Regions from separate parts of the Homo sapiens genome. Here region 2 is linked to region 1. The links come from fine-mapping of genetic effects on plasma protein levels. A gene starts in region 1. The other region holds a variant in brackets. All regions are shown on one strand. Distances are between the middles of the regions. Region 1 holds the start of FGL1 (fibrinogen like 1). Region 2 overlaps FGL1 (fibrinogen like 1).

What was found. PIP is the posterior inclusion probability: the model's chance that the variant is causal. The UK Biobank Pharma Proteomics Project read protein levels with antibody pairs (Olink). The fine-mapping took linkage between variants from a reference panel, not from the people measured, so its PIPs are less certain.
Region 2: its variant is fine-mapped to the plasma level of the FGL1 protein (UK Biobank, PIP above 0.99).

The regions. Positions count from the first base shown.
Region 1 is chr8:17,892,214-17,900,559 of GRCh38, reverse strand. FGL1 (fibrinogen like 1) reads left to right here and starts at 5,036. Exons shown (of 8, transcript NM_004467.4): 1 at 5,036-5,113.
Region 2 is chr8:17,861,108-17,869,453 of GRCh38, reverse strand. FGL1 (fibrinogen like 1) reads left to right here. Exons shown (of 8, transcript NM_004467.4): 6 at 450-538; 7 at 719-906; 8 at 4,703-5,065. The coding sequence ends at 4,862. Among named protein-coding and RNA genes, the nearest start is that of FGL1, 30 kb to the left of the region's middle. The variant C/G (reference allele first, on the strand shown) is at 3,868.

The DNA.
Region 1 (8,346 bases):
CAACAACAACAAATAAAACTAGTATAAGTGTATGACTCTCAAATAGGGCCTCAATATTTCAGAATCTTTGATCGCTGGAGTCAAGCACACAATGTCTATTCTAAAAGTTCTAGAATTTTTCCACAATGTGTCTCTGAGGGGGAAGCAGGAAAAAAACATTTCAGTCTCAGAGGAATCATTTTGTAGTATACTCTTGGTCATGCCTATAGGAGTCAGGGACCTAGCCTTTGTTTTTGAGGGAGTTCTAGTTATTGGCAAAGTTATCCAAGTGCAAATATAAATTTTTAAATGTAAATTTTAAAGGTTTCATATGCCCGGTTATTGTCCCAAATGCACATGCAGAAAAATAAGTTGTGCCTGATGAACTAAATGTGGGCTAACCAACAGATTAATCAGAAAGTATGTGTAATTGTAGACAATGAATTTTTTTGTCTCTCAACCTAATGTACAGTTATTTTGAAGTGAAAGGAAACTATATCTCAGGGAATTATATTTAGATTGTCTTCCTTTTTCTAAGAAATAAAAACTGAGTAAAAAAAAGACAAAATTTAAATTCAAATGGGCAAATATATTTTTGTCAAATGTATATTTTTACATTTTCTGCTAGAGTTCAGAAATTTTGTCAGAATAGCTTGCAACCCTGAGGATTCTACTTTCAGATATTGTCATAGTGGTAGGAATCACGCATTTTCCAATTAGTTGAATTCTTCATGAAAAGATAATATTTTAAAAGTCTAAAAACTGGAGAAAAGAGGTACATATAGAGACTGGATTTAGGCATCAGGATGAAAAGATACACTGCAAATTCATCCAAAAAAAAAAAAAAAAAAGCAGATACATCATCACCGAGGAGTAGAATGAAAGCAAGTATCTTCTGATACCTTCCATCTTCCGTGTTCCTAAAGGCGTATTTTAAAATGTGGTTTTACTTAACACGAGCTCTTGTGTTCTTTTTTCCCTACATATTTTTATACAATATAGCTAAATTTCTTCTTCATGTGTTACGGGTAAAAAATCTGTTTTCTATTAGAATTTACGTGTATTTGGTTAAAATTGTTTTTTTAATGACATGTGACCTTCTGGGGAGATTCTTCTTTAATAAGAAAGATGTTATTATTCAGAAGCATAAAATAAATGCCAGTCCACAGTCCTTGCAAACACACAGAAAGAAAAACAAACATATTCCTCAGCAAGAACACTTTTTATTTTTTGTGGCAGAAAAAAAAAAAGAAAACATCTTTGTACTCTTCCTGCTAGGGAACCAATCTAAAATTAGTTTGAGAATCAGAGGGGAAAAAAATCCAAACACATAGGTGAGAAAGCTCTGAAAAGATGAGTAGTGAATAAGCGTTTCATTTTATCTTAACTAGTATGCAGGGGAGGACATAGGTTGTGTGGAACCTGAAGCTACACATTTGGGAGTATCTGCCAAATGTCTATCAGTATTACTTTTTACATGCCTCATGTAGCAGGCCTAGAGGGAGAGCAATCCAGATGTGAGCAAAAGAACAGAGAGCTCTGGGAGGAAGAAATAATGGTGCAGTGACAAAATTCCTTCTGAGGCATTCGACTTTCCTGTCCAGGAGCCTCAGAGTTACAGGCAGAGTTCAATCATAGAAGCAGAGCTTCTAGGATATATAAGGGATTTGACTTAATGCAACTGTGGGAGCTGGTTAAGTACTCTTTGAAAGGCAGCTGTCTCCAGGGATGATGTTGGAGCTTGAAGTACGAACTGCAGTTAAGCGAGAGAGTAGATGAGCGTAATAGAAGCAGGAGCTGGAATCTATGAGGACGGACTGAAACCTGTGTCAGTTCTTGTTGCCTCTGACCTTGGTTGATGTGGGTGTCCTACAGAAGCCAGACCCATTTGTAATGTGCTAAACGAGGCTCCAAATTATATCCAAAGGGAAGTGAAACAGCTGGAGGCTTAGCCACTATCTTAAGGCCAACGAGATACGTTACAGCATGGGAGAGCTGCAAAGATGGCTGCCACTTCCTTTCTGCCTGCCAACTGCTCCTAATGGAAAACATAAGGCAAAAGGAATTCTGGGAACTGTAGTTCGGCCTACCCAAGTTGACACATTACAAAGCACCTCAATTTTTCTTTTCTTCCTCTTTTTCTTTATCCACCTTTACCCTTATTTTTCTAGTTCATATTGTCAGAATCTTTCCCAGAAAGTGTGTGTGAAGGTGGAACTATTTATTGATCATCTATTAATGTAAACTTTCTGCTAGTTACATCAATAATGGGAATACTTAGGATAACTCACTAGTAAAACTGTTTTAGTTTTATTAATTTTAAAATGCTTCTCCATTGAAATTTCTGAGACCTACGTTATGTGCAAATAAACTTTCTAGTTTTTCAGGACTCTGCCTGAGATGACATTGAAACCAGCATTTCAGGAAGGAATTTGATTACCTCCACCTGAGGAAGCTCTGCTAGTTGTGTGGAACGAAGACTGTTCTTAACAACCCCTTTCCTTGATATCTACAATACGCTCCGTTCTAAATATTTTAATAAAGGGCACATTTGAAGTTTAAAATGTTATCATTGTAATCAGAGCATGGAGTTTTATAAGTCCCATAAAAGGGTGCCTCCTGAACTGGGAGTCAAGTTTGGAAAATATAACCATCAGAAATTTATGCTGGTAGAATACAGTCAAGGATATAAGATCATTTGTCTGAGTCTAGTTCCTCATGCAGCCTTAAGTAGACATGTTCCTCGCTGCAAGCTTGAGTGGACTGGAGGCGGCAAGATCTGGAATTAAACCTTCCCACGGTGACTGGGTCAAGTATCAAATAATGGACAGGTGTTCAATCTGGCAGGCACAATACAGGGTCCAGAGGGTTTGGATGAAAATTGTGCTGTAACTGATGTATTAATTGAAGAGTTCTCTGAAAAAGGTCTTCCAAAAGGAAAAGGAAAAAAGAATTGACAGTGTCCGTTTAATGTGTTTGAGAGCCTAATCAGCCTGATCTTGGTGGGACTGTACTTGTTGTCCTATTATATCATGCTTTTCTTGTACTTTTTTCAGCCAGTGATCTCAGGTCTCATTCTCATTTCATAGCTTTGGTGCAGTTGTGCAAGGTCACAACTCTTCTTTCTTGCTTTTTTTCTTTTTCTTTTTTTTTGACAGGGTCTTGCTCTGTCACCCAGGCTGCAGTGCAGTGGCGCGATCTCGGCTCACTGCAATCTCTGCCTCCTGGGTTCAAGTAATTCTCCTCCTCAGCCTCCTGTGTAGCTGGTACCACAGACGCCCACCACCACACCTGGATAATTTTTGTAGTTTTAGTAGAAACTAAAAATACATGGGGTTTTGCCATTTTGGCCAGGCTGGTCTCGAACTCCTGACCTCAGGTGATCCACCTGCCTCAGCCTCCCAAAGCGTTGGGATTACAGGCGTGAGCCACCGCACCTGGCCATAATTTTGACCTTTCCTGATGATAGTTCTTCCACCATGTTATGGCAGTACATCCATGGAATAATGTTACTCCAAGAAAATTTGGCTTTTGGAATTCCTCCACAAAGTATTGGCCCTAGAGTAGTCCTTACTGCCTGATTAACTTTTGCAAGTTTCTCCTGAGGTAATGATGCTAGCCAAGTTTCCGAAAGACAGCATAGTCTACCTTTAGTAGAAAAGAGGACAGATTCTGAGCAGGATTGCCTTTGAGCCCAGCTATACCTCTTGTTAGCTGTGTGACCTCGTGCAAGTCACTTAAACCTCTGTGTCTCAGTTTCGTCATTTGTGAAATGGAGATCATTAACAGTACCTACTTATAGGGCTGTGTGGCTGAGTGAGTTGATAAAATTACCATGTTTAGCACATGATAAGTATACCACATGTTAGCTGCTGTTAATGTTATGTCCCTCCAGTGAGGAAATGAACACAAGGCTAAATTATTGCTTGAATGGGGACAAAGCTAAAGGCATACAAGAAGGAAAGATAAGTTTGTATTTCAAAATATGTCATTTTACCACAGAGATCATTATTGAATTAGCCGAATAATCCCATATTTTTGCTTTTGAAATTTAACATTAGCAGCTTGAATTCTCTACAATTATGAATGTATAATTTCCACTTCTTCTGTGTGTGTGCAAATCACTTCAGTCTAACTGGCTTTTTTTTTCCTTCTTTTTTCCAGTAAATCAACAGGATTACCTTTCCCTTAATAATCTTCAAAATGTCCACGTGAAGGACAGGAAGATGTTTAATGGGAAGACCAAACATCGTCAGTGCTCAAGTCCAGTAGATAACAAAGAACAGAAAGAAAACAAAACTTTGGTATTTTACTGGAATCTGAGTGAATAAATAGGGACCACAGGACAAATGGCAAACAACTGCTTGAGTTACATCAGAAGGAAAGAAGAAATGATGAACCCAGATTTCCAGTAAGAAACTGTTACACAATACGATTAATGGAGCTAACAAGTGCCTATTACACATTAGAAAATCTTCTAGAGGATTTTAAAACAAAAGGAACAACTTGTCCAGAGTATAATCGATGCTTCCAGTTAAATTTCACAATTTTGCACCTCAGGGAATACTTTTGTTTTTCTTAGAGAGCAAATAAACTGACCATTTCACCTTGGCAATTATTAACCTGCCTTGTTTTTTATAACTAGGAAAAATTTGGCTTATCTCCATATTTTAGTTGAGATGACATATTAATTCATATTTTTGTGGGTAAAATGTTATTACCCTTAATACAAAGCAAAGTTTCAGCTGGACTTCGTTTTTACTTAATCTTCAATGGAACATTATTGAAGTTACAGTACAAAAATTCTCTGAATGAACATAATAATAAGTTGTAAAATATATATATCTTTATAAAGATATATTATTGGATCTTTCACAAAAAGTCATACAAGTGGGGAAAAAAGAAAAATATCAGAGTATTGGGATTTGTCCTTGAATCTTCTCTTTTAGCTTTCTTTCAGTTAAACCTGTGTCCACATGTTTGTTTCTGGATTGAAGCCAGAATCAACATTGTCCCTATTTCTAATCAAATAATGGAGAAATAATTACAAATTCCCAATGCAGTTACAGGATCCTGGGAAGCAGAGTGTCTGGATGGAACCTGAGCTGGGTCTCTGACTCACTTCTGACTTTAGGCAAGTTATTTAATGTCTCTGCATTTTTGACATGCTTGTAATAATGCTAATTTATTTCACAGGTATGATAGTAACCAAAACTCAGGTAACAACCATTAGCTTTTGCAAGAAGTCAGGTTGACTAGCAAGGAGTCTGCTTCTGCTACTTGGAGAAGAGATTTAGAATTATGTATCTTTTGTTACAGATATACAGATATACAAATATACAGATATACAAATAAGGTATGTTAGAATTACAAATGAGGAAAATGGAAAATTTTAGAGAACTTAAGATATTCTCAGGAATTATTCTAAAGCTAATCAAAGTAATATAATGACTTTCTAAATATGTATAATTACATTTTGAAATGCTTTATTGTTTATATGCTACCAGACTAGGGGGTGCCTTTTTGATTATTGGATTATCTTAATGGTAATGAGATGAACATTTCAGGACATCAAGAGACAGAGGCCTGTCAAAAAAATTTCATTAGCCCTTTATTTTTTACTAAATCTAATGCTAAGCAATATTTATATACCTTATATAATGTATATATAATCTATAATATATACATAATTATGTATAATAATGTTACGTACATACATATACATATATATACAGTGTGCGCAGGTAAAATTATATGATATATAGGTGCATCACCCAGAGCATTTTCAAAACATACTTCCATTTATGCAAGAGCCAGAATCAAACATTGGAATAAGAAAATTTCTTTTTTAAGCTCTAGGCGTTTTTTGTTGTTGTCGTTTGTTTGTTGGTTTTTTGAGATGGAGTCTCACTTTGTATAATTTCCTTTACATTTTGAATGAATTGCATGGGAGTTTGACGTAAATGATAGGTTTACAGTTTCAGTATAAAAAATTAAAAATAAAATGGACTATATGACAATTTTCACTTCAGAAGTCAAAAAACTTCAGAAACATTTTTCTTTATTGCATTTCTTGAGGGATCAACTATATTTAGCTTTGTAAGGCTTTCAGTGAGTATGGATTCTTAAGAAAAATACAAAAGCACAGTTATATTCCATTTTCAGAAAGAGGAAAAAATTTGGAAGGAAATAGCTTAAAAGGAGTCTCTAAGCTTGTGTTTATGGGTACATTTTTAACTCACTGACTTAGGTTATAGTCCTAAGCATTATAGTCCTATAGCGTTTGTGAATGCTAACTTATTAAACATACTTCGTTCAATAACTTTTTCCTTCCTTTTTATTTCTTTTATATATCCTTTTACAATGCTTGCTTAAAACATACCAGTTTTGAAATGTTTGCATGCTACTAATGTACTTCTGTTTTGTAATTGTTTTTAAAAATTATATATTATTTTTAGAACTTTTCATTTACAAATTTAATGTCTTCATCTTTAAATTTAATGCAGCGTAATTAATTAAATTTTTTTTAAATATAGTGGGGAAGGAATTAGAATTTATAGCATTAAAATTATGTAAAATAATATAGTCCACCAAAGAACAGCCATTTGATAACAATTTTAATTTTATAATAATTAAAAGTTTTGATACTGCCTAAGGCAAAAATATTATAAAAGAAATACAACTAATTGTGCAATAAATGAACAGAATAATTTGATACAACTTTACTGTAAGCCAGATGTGCAGAAGAAATAATGGTTTACTATAATGAATGATGGAGACCAGAATTTCAAAGCAAGTTTCTTAATGCTTAGCATTTCTTCAATATTACAGAGAATGTTGGTTAGAATTGCAAAGGAGGAAAATGGAAAATTTTAGAGAACTTAAGATATTCTCAGGAATTATTCTAAAGCTAATCAAAGTAATATAATGACTTTCTAAATGTAAATAATTACATTTTGAAATGCTTTATTGTTTATATGCTACCAGACTAGGGGGTGCCTTTTTGATTATTGGATTATCTTAATGGTAGTGAGATAAACATTTCAGGACATCAAGAGACAGAGGCCTGTCAAAAAAATTTCATTAGCCCTTTATTTTTTACTAAATCTAATGCTAAGCAATATTTATATACCTTATATAATGTATATATAATATAATCTATAATATATACATATTATGTATAATAATGTTATGTTCATACATATACGTATATATACAGTGTGCGTAGGTAAAATTATATGATATATAGGTGCATCATTCAGAGCATTTTCAAAACATACTTCCATTTATGCAAGAGCCAGAATCAAACATTGGAATGAGAAAATTTCTTTTTTAAGCTCTAGGTGTTTTTTGTTGTTGTTGTTTGTTTGTTTGTTTTTTGAGATGGAGTCTCACTCTGTCACCCAGGCTGGAGTGCAGTGGTGTGATCTTGGCTCACTGCAACCTCTGTCTCCCAGGTTCAAGCAATTCTCATGCCTCAACCAACACAGTAGCTGGGATAAAAGGTGTGTGCCACCACACCTGGCTAATTTCTTTGTATTTTTAGTAGGGACGGGGTTTTGCCATGTTGGCCATGCTGGTCTCAAACTCCTGACCCAAGTGATCTGCCTGCCTCAGCCTCTCAACGTGCTGGGATTACAGGCATGAGCCACCACGCCTGGCTAAGCTCTAACTTTTTAAGCTAATTTATTCACTTCTGAAATAAAGTACTTGATCCCACAAATGCATAAGAAAACTTTAATCAAATAAAAAAATTTTTCAACAAATAACATTAAAGCAAAGTCTAGAAGATACAGACATTTCATGATTTTTAATTTTTGACTCCTGAATATTATCTGGGAGCGGATTAAAATAATGAAAATTTGTTTCCTGTCACATAAAAAAAGAGGACATTATTTTTACTACTAATCCTTAGCAGTTTCATTTATCAAGGAAAAATCCTAATCAGTAATCTATTAAATACATTGGTTATTTTCAGTCAGAAGAACAATTTGAGTTGGAGTCACAAATAAATGGTATTTATGTCATGTCGTTATGCTGATTTCCCAGACTAGTGTAAATATACTTAGTGAAAGTCTCTTTTATTTCTTTAGGCAAACAATTTTCCCTCTCTGAGCCTCTAGTGTTGATGATATTTGACTGAATGATGTCACTTCCTCTAATTATATTTTCTCTGCATGTTCTAGTCTCGGGGAACAAGGCTATTTCTAAAATCTCTTTATATTTTTTAAATATTTTGTTTTCCATCTTTATTTTCTTTTGCTTCCTTATAATAAAATGTTTTTGTTTCTTATTTTCTGTAACATGAAAAATACTTTATGACTGTATGTCTGTGACTATGCAATTGTTTATGTTTAAGAAATTGCC
Region 2 (8,346 bases), 31 kb after region 1:
ACAAACCTAGTGGCTCAGCTACTAGAGATTACACAATGTCATTAATAGCCACCATTTATATTCAAGATCAACATTCTTACTGAAATCAAGAAAAAGAGGTCAAACTATTAAAGGTAAAACGTCGACCCTTTCATTGTTAGATTGCTTTAAGTAATCACTTATTTTTTCTGTTGTTCATTATTCAGTGAATTGCACTAGGTTTTACCTCTAAGAGATCTAGTAGACATTTTTTAAATTTAATATTGTATCCATCATTTTTTTTCAAATAAATTACACGATAAAATGTTCATGTTATATATACAAAGGAGTCACTGTTTAATCTTTGAAAACTGATTCTTGGCCAAGGGAAATGGTAAAATTAAAATAGAGCTGTGAATTATTTTTAAACCGCAGTAGTCCGTGTCATGTCACACATTTTTAAAAATTATAATTGCTTGTTTCTTTTTTAGAAGACTACACTTTAAAAATCGACCTTGCAGATTTTGAAAAAAATAGCCGTTATGCACAATATAAGAATTTCAAAGTTGGAGATGAAAAGGTACTACAATTTTCTAAGAAGTAAAACCGTGAATAAATGCTTAAAATGTGCAATATAACCCTGGAGTCAGTGGAAATAAAAATATACAATAGAACCTGTTCTTTTGTTTATGAAATAAACTTAATTTTAAAATGGTCATAGAGGAACTCCACTGACAGCAGAAATGCCCTTTTTCTTTAGAATTTCTACGAGTTGAATATTGGGGAATATTCTGGAACAGCTGGAGATTCCCTTGCGGGGAATTTTCATCCTGAGGTGCAGTGGTGGGCTAGTCACCAAAGAATGAAATTCAGCACGTGGGACAGAGATCATGACAACTATGAAGGGAACTGCGCAGAAGAAGATCAGTCTGGCTGGTGGTTTAACAGGTTTGATGTCTTATGAGCATAGTTGTAATGGAGTTGATGATATCTCACTGATAGACATTAATTATCAATATAATATGTATGGTAATGTTAGTCTTTATTTATAATATTAGTATTATTAAGTAATCATTCTCATTAGAATTCTTCAGCAATGAAGTCGTTTTGAGGATTTGTTCATTGTGTACATTAGTAAAGTGTAAATGTCATAGAAATAAATTATTACTTTTACAAAGATCATTTGCAAACTGAATTATGGATGAGTTATAAATAGAAGGCCACAAATTCACACAAAGAAAGAGAGAGCATGTATATATATGGAGACTATTTGGCATCCTAATAACCAACTAGTTCTTCACCTGACCATATCACACAAAAGAGCCACCGTTATTGCTGTAATGCTTCTGTATAGTACTACTTTTCAATCACTATGGCTTTCATTAATTCATTGAGTCTAAGCCTCTCCCAATACAGAAATTTCCTTTACAATAATCCAGAAACCTAATTCTACCCTCTGACTGAATACATTCATGTTACTTTATCAGCAAATTCATTCCGTTTTTGATTGTATATAGTTGCTTCTTTTTTTACTGATACAAAATATTTTATATATTTCTGGGGTACATGGGCTAATTTTTGCATTTTTGGTAGAGATGGGGTTTTGCCATGTTGCCCAGGCAGGTCTCGAACTCCTGGCCTCATGTGATCCACCTACCCCGGCCTCCCAAAGTGTTGGGCGTGAGCCACCGCACCCTGCCGAATTCATAAGTTTTAAATTGCATGTCATTCTGAGCAGAGATTCGCACCATTGGATTCTTTCTGCCCAGGAGGTGGGTCACCCCTCTGTCTAGCGTATCCACGCTGAAAGCCCTCCCTGCCCCAAGACACTTAGTAGAAGTCTGAGTTATCAGATCCAGTGTTGGAGTTTCATAGTGCTCGTGTTCGAATCATGCTTATTTGATTTAATAATGGTCCCAAAGCACAAGAGCTGTAATGCTGACATATTGTTATATAATCATAATCTTTTATTATTAGTTGTTGTTAATCTCTTACTGTGTCTAATTTATAAATTAACTTTGTCATAGGTATGTATATTATAGGAAAAAACAGAGAACTACTATAGATGGTTTTTTTCCTTCCTACACCCAAAAGATTTTTCCCCCTAGCGTTCTGAAATTTTACAGTGACATACACTGTCGTGGTCTTCTTTTGGTTTACTGCAGTGGGTACTCAGTGGTTCTTTTGAATCTATATCATGTCTTTCAGTTTGGTAAATTTTATTTTCTTTATCTGCTCGTTACTCACTTCGTAGCTGTTTCGGTTATCAGACTGAAAAAGCATAGTATCAATATATAGAATTTGGTATTATCTGTAGTTTCAGGCATCCACTAGGGGTCTTAGAACGTATCCCCTGCAGATAAGGGAGTACTACTGCTGTTGTAAAAATAGTCATCTTTTCTATATTTTGCTTTTTTAAAAAAACATTTGAGTCCATTTAAGATTTGATCATTTATAAAGGAACTGGAGTATTTCCAGCAGTGTGAAGGAGAGAAACAAATTTCACTCTCCTGCTTTGCAAATTGAAGGTGATGATGGTGTTTTCCTTAGTGGTTTTCCTGTTATTTTAAAAACCGTCTTCTTCACCTGTTCCTACTCCTTTCTTTCCCCCTTGTTCTTCTAAGTCAGCATGACATAAAACTTAACGTGTAATTCATGAAGTCATCTGCAAGCATCACCAATGTTTGATTTTGAAAACAATTCCATATACAGAAATAATTACTAATAGTATCCTGAGATCAAAACCATGTACTTTATCCAGCTGACTGGCTTCTAAGGCATCTGAATGAAAACTACCATGTATATTAATGTGGGCAAAGGAACGATTTACCTGACTTTAAAGAAATGGGTTCAGGGAGCACAAAGAAAGGCCATTCATTAGGTGGAGCCTGCCACAGAGCCCACATTATCCTTGGAATCAAAGGGGTTGATAAGGCTGTGCAATTGGAAAATCAGTAGGCATTAAGGGAGAGAAAGTAGATTGTTTTAGAAACTTGGTGCTACTTCTACCATGCCTACTATCAGTGAGTTCGACTATCATCTTTTCTTCCTTCTTACTGTTGCTTTTTTTCTGTCCCATAGTTCTTCTAATTTACATGAAATGTTGGCACTTCATAAATATTACCCACCTATAAAATGTTTTTTTCCACATAGCAAACCAATCACTGCGAGTTGATGTCTTTTCTTTGTTAGTGTAGCATTTCACGTGAGTGTTCACAGCCACTTCTTCACCAAGGAAGACCCAATCATCCCCTAACCTAGTTTCAAATCCAGGCTGTTCTAAAAACTAAACGATGCTAGAAAACTGGTCTCAGAATAGTGAAGGTTTCTTATGTTCATCACAGAGTCAGTTTCCTAATGGGATTCAAATGATAGACCAAATATAAAAATATAGTTAGCAGATGTCTCTAGATAGACAAATATATGCCAAAATATATATTCTGGAGACTCAATTTACAGTATTTTCTTTTTTTAACATTACTTTCCATGCTGTTTTAAAAACACAGTAGGCTTTGACATTTGCAGACTTGACATACATATTTTCAATTAATTACGTCCATTTAAGTTAGGAGGACTTCGAGAACGCTCAGTAGGAGTGAATCATTAAGCTGATAAGTGATTCAAGCCAGCCACTCAGCCTTTACGGGTAGATTATATGCTTTTTTGATTCAATAATTTGGGTTTTTCCATAGATGTTCAGAACTACCTCTTGTGAATGTTCTCCTTCTATCCTAATTCTGACATCTTTTCATTAATTTTATCAATAAAGAAGTATATGGCAATTAATTTCATAACAACACACATAAACTTATTGCATACTGTTACATGTAAATTATACATATCAAGGACAAAATTTACAGACTCCAAAGGAGGAAAGAAACATTTTTATATTGTCGATAACCTAACCAG[C/G]TTATCTAGATTGGTGCAATATATGTAAAAAATTAACTCAGCAACTAGGAAAAAATGATTATTGGTTGATGGGTGGCAAAACTTTAAATGGTGATTTAGGTTTGTTTGCTTACCCTTGAGATTGAAATAACTGATAGGCTAGCAATTTAAAGAAGGGGACATACGGAGTTTGAATTATGAAAGCTAAGTCTTAGCAGCAGAGGAATGAACGTGTGAGTGCAAATTATCCAGGAAAGCCAGTAGTAGAGCACCTTGCCCACGACTTGCTTTGCTGACACTCACCTTAGCTCTTGTTAAGTATGAAATTAACACTGTTCTGAGTCAGGAGGTTGTAAGGCTGGAGGTTACAAGGATGCGTTTTTGTTTGCTTGTTTTAATTTTTTGTTTAAAGAAAATCAAAAATTGAAATGCTTATTTTTCAATGCACTGTGAGTGGCCTGGGTTGTATTTTCAGATTTGTAATGGCAGTAAAACTCACCATTTTAAAATACCCATCTCTGAGGCCAGGCGCAGTGGCTCACACCTGTTATCCCAGCAGTTTGGAAGGCTGAGGCAGGAGGATTGCTTGAGCTCAGGAGTTGGAGACCAGCCAGGGCAACACAGTGAGACACTGTCTCTATTATTAAAAAAAAATTAAAAAATAAAAAATAAAATACAATAGCCATCTGTTGTAGAAATTTCTCAGCTTTTGGAAACTAGTAAATATTTACTTGTCTGAAAAATGGCAGAATTCATAGTTCAAAAATTTTGAGCATTTGTAGCAAAATAAAAGGGATTCTGAACAATATTTTTCCAGTCTGATTGTTGTTTTCTTTTTTTTTCTCCCTTCCACTAGGTGTCACTCTGCAAACCTGAATGGTGTATACTACAGCGGCCCCTACACGGCTAAAACAGACAATGGGATTGTCTGGTACACCTGGCATGGGTGGTGGTATTCTCTGAAATCTGTGGTTATGAAAATTAGGCCAAATGATTTTATTCCAAATGTAATTTAATTGCTGCTGTTGGGCTTTCGTTTCTGCAATTCAGCTTTGTTTAAAGTGATTTGAAAAATACTCATTCTGAACATATCCATGCGCAATCATGATAACTGTTGTGAGTAGTGCTTTTCATTCTTCTCACTTGCCTTTGTTACTTAATGTGCTTTCAGTACAGCAGATATGCAATATTCACCAAATAAATGTAGACTGTGTTAATATTTATTGAATCCCTGTGTGCAAAGGGCTCTGATAAGAGCTTATGTCAGACAAAACATAAAAAGCATGGATTATATACCATGACTTAGGAGATACAAGCATAAATGCATAATAAATTATGAATGCAATTGGCAAAACACATGACAAAATCCAGCAAATAATGGATTGCCGAATCAACCGCAGAGACAATAAATATTATGAGTTGGGATTTGAACTCAGGTTTTGGATTACAGAGTGGAAACTTTTAAGCACAACCCAGGATCTTAATCACTACAAAACGCTACTCGTATTTTTAGGAAGTTTATGTAGGTTATACACTTCTCTCACAGGGCTCATTTTAATTCTTATGCCAATCCTGTGAGGTTATTATTATGTCCATTTAACAGAGCTGAGAATCAGTGGGTCTGAGTTTTTGTGACTGCTCCAAGTTACAAAGTAGGGGAACAAGGCCTCAAATCCAAGTCTTCTGATGCTAAATCAAATATCTTGCCACCATCCTATAGCTTCTTCTGGGTAGAACTTGGATTGGTGCAGAATAGGGAGAGAACGTTTCAAATGAGAGTAAAAGATACTCCAAAAGGCTGGGCACGGTGGCTCACGCCTGTAATCCCAGCACTCTGGGAGGCTGAGGCAGGTGGACCACTTGAGGCCAGGAGTCTGAGACCAGCCTGGCCAACATGATGAAAACCCATCTCTACTAAAAATACAAAAATTAGCTGGGCGTGGTGGTGTGAGCCTGTAATCCCAGCTACTCGGGAGGCTGAGGCAGGAGAATTGCTTAAACCCAGGAAGCAGAGGTTGTAGTGAGCTGAGATCGTGCCAACCTGCACTCCGACCTGGCCAACAAAGCGAGAAGCCATCTCAAGAAAAAAAAAAAAAAAGATACTCTAAAAAATATTTGTGTGTCAACTGTGTGTCAGGCACAGAGGATACAGTTAAAGCCCACACGGAGCTTAGTTTTTTGGTAAACACATACACTAATCATAGAATCACAAAATATACATAATTATAAAAGCTGATATGTATGAAGTAAAGATATGTGCCTGGGGAATGTTTACCAGGAGGATCTGACCTGGCTTTGGGGTAGGAGATCAGAAAAGCTTCCCAGAACAACTGACTTTTTGAGCTGAGACCTTTTAAGAAGGTGTACGTGGGGAGATATTGCAGGCAGAGGGAATCATGTGTGTTAAGTACACAGAGCAGGAAAGTGCTTGGGAACAAAAGCTTAGAAAGCCAATATAGTTGAGTGATCCTTAAATCCTTAAGCCAAGGATTCTGCCACTTAATGGCTATGTGACGTTGGGTAGGCAACTTAACTTCTCTGAGCCCTAGCTATCTCATCTACAAGGTAACGATTACAATAGTACCTGCCTCATAGGGGTGCTTTGAGAATTATAAAACTATAGCACTTGGCATAGTGCCTCGCACAAAGTAAGCATTCAATAAGAACTAGGTGTGTTGACTTGTGAAGTAGGCATTAAGGGACAGTAATGATATAGAGGCCCTTGAAATCATAGGCCACATAAGGATATTAAGGTTAGTTGTACTTTATTCTCTAAATCAGTGTTTCCCAAGCGGCACTTCTCAGTCTTTAGTGTCATACAAACCAACTGAAGATCCTGTTAAAATGTAACTCTGCTTCCAGGATGGGGCCTAATATTTGGGTTTTCTAAGAAGTTTCCAGACAATGCAGATACTGCTGGTCTAGAAATTACACTTTGAAAAGCAAAAAGCTAGAGAGCCATAGTTCTGTGAGACATTGGTAGTTCAGTACAGAAAGAAGAAAAGGGCTGCCTGATCAAATAAATTTAGGAGATGACAAATTCAGCAGAATTCCACAGGTTTCTTCTCTTGGGAATTTCTCAGTTCTCTAATTTTTCTAATGTGCGTTCTGAAGCTCCAAGAAGGACATATAGTATGTAGCATTTTTATATCTAATTAAGAGTATGTTCTGGTGCGAGGTATAAATTGCCTGACTACGGAAGTCCAAACAAATAAAGATTTCTTCATCTTACGTAGTGAGAACTCAGGAGGTAAGTGGTTGCTGACCTATGTTCAGTGCAGCGTGGAGGCTGATGACCCTGCAATTCATTTAGCCCATCCTTCAAAATTGCAAATTATCTACCACGGTTCCTGCTTTGAGTTCGTGTTGAAAGCAGTAAGAAAAGCGAAGGGTCAACAGACTTCAGTTATGCCTTGTTGGTCAGAATTGTATCATATGTTCACTCTGTCTGGAAGTATGATCAGGAGAAAGAATATTTATTTTTATGATCTCTGTAGAATGTGCAGGCAAAGGAGAAATGTTTGCCAGGGTTCTTGATTGTTTTTCAATGTGGTCTTGTGGGAACAGTGTTCCATAAAACACACGTTGGTAAGCTATAAATAATGGATCATCAGTGACAATTTTAAATATGGGCTTAATTGCTCAAGTAGTAGCCTGAAGAACTCACACAATTAGGAGATCAAAAGAAGAAAAGCTTTTAAAGGAGAAAAAAAATGATTCCACAGAGAAGTGGGAGGGGAGCTAAACAAATTATGGCGTCAAACCTCAGTATGATAGTTTTTCAATGCAGAAGGAGTGATTTTAAAAATTTAAAATGCCATAAAATAATGGAAGAGAAGTTCTAATGAAATATCTTCGGACTTAGTGATAATGCTATTTGTGTTATTAAATCCGTTTCAGTGGAATGGTAGGGAGCTCTAGGCCAGGAAATAAAAGCAGTTAGAGAGAATAGATTGGGGCCTGGAGCAGTGGCTCACGCTTGTAATCCCAACACTTTGGGAAGCCTAGGTGGGTGGATCACTTGAGGTCAGGAGTTTGAGACCAGCCTGGTCAACATGGTGAAACCCAATCTCTACTAAAAATACAAAAATTAGCTGGGCATCATGATGCATACCTGTAGTCCCAGCTACTCGGGAGGCTGAGGCAGAAGAATCGCTTGAACTGGGGAGGTGGAGGTTGCAGGGAGCCGAGACTGTGCCACTACACTCCAGCCTGGGCGACAGAGTGAGAGACTCATCCAAAAAATAAAAAAGAGAGAGAATAGAGATTGGTCATTTGAGGAGTTTGGATGTAAAATAGGGAAACTGGACTGATTTTTTCTGAATTAGGAAGACCCCAGCCTAAAATAAATGTCTCTGAAATTTCACCATTAGTGAGCTATTTATTAGACTTTATCACTTTTTGAAATGCAAAATGCTTTTAATTTGTATCAGCTGATTCCACTTTAAGGTCAACAAACTCGTGAGTGTTTTGAATTTTTTTTTTTTTGATAGAGCAAAG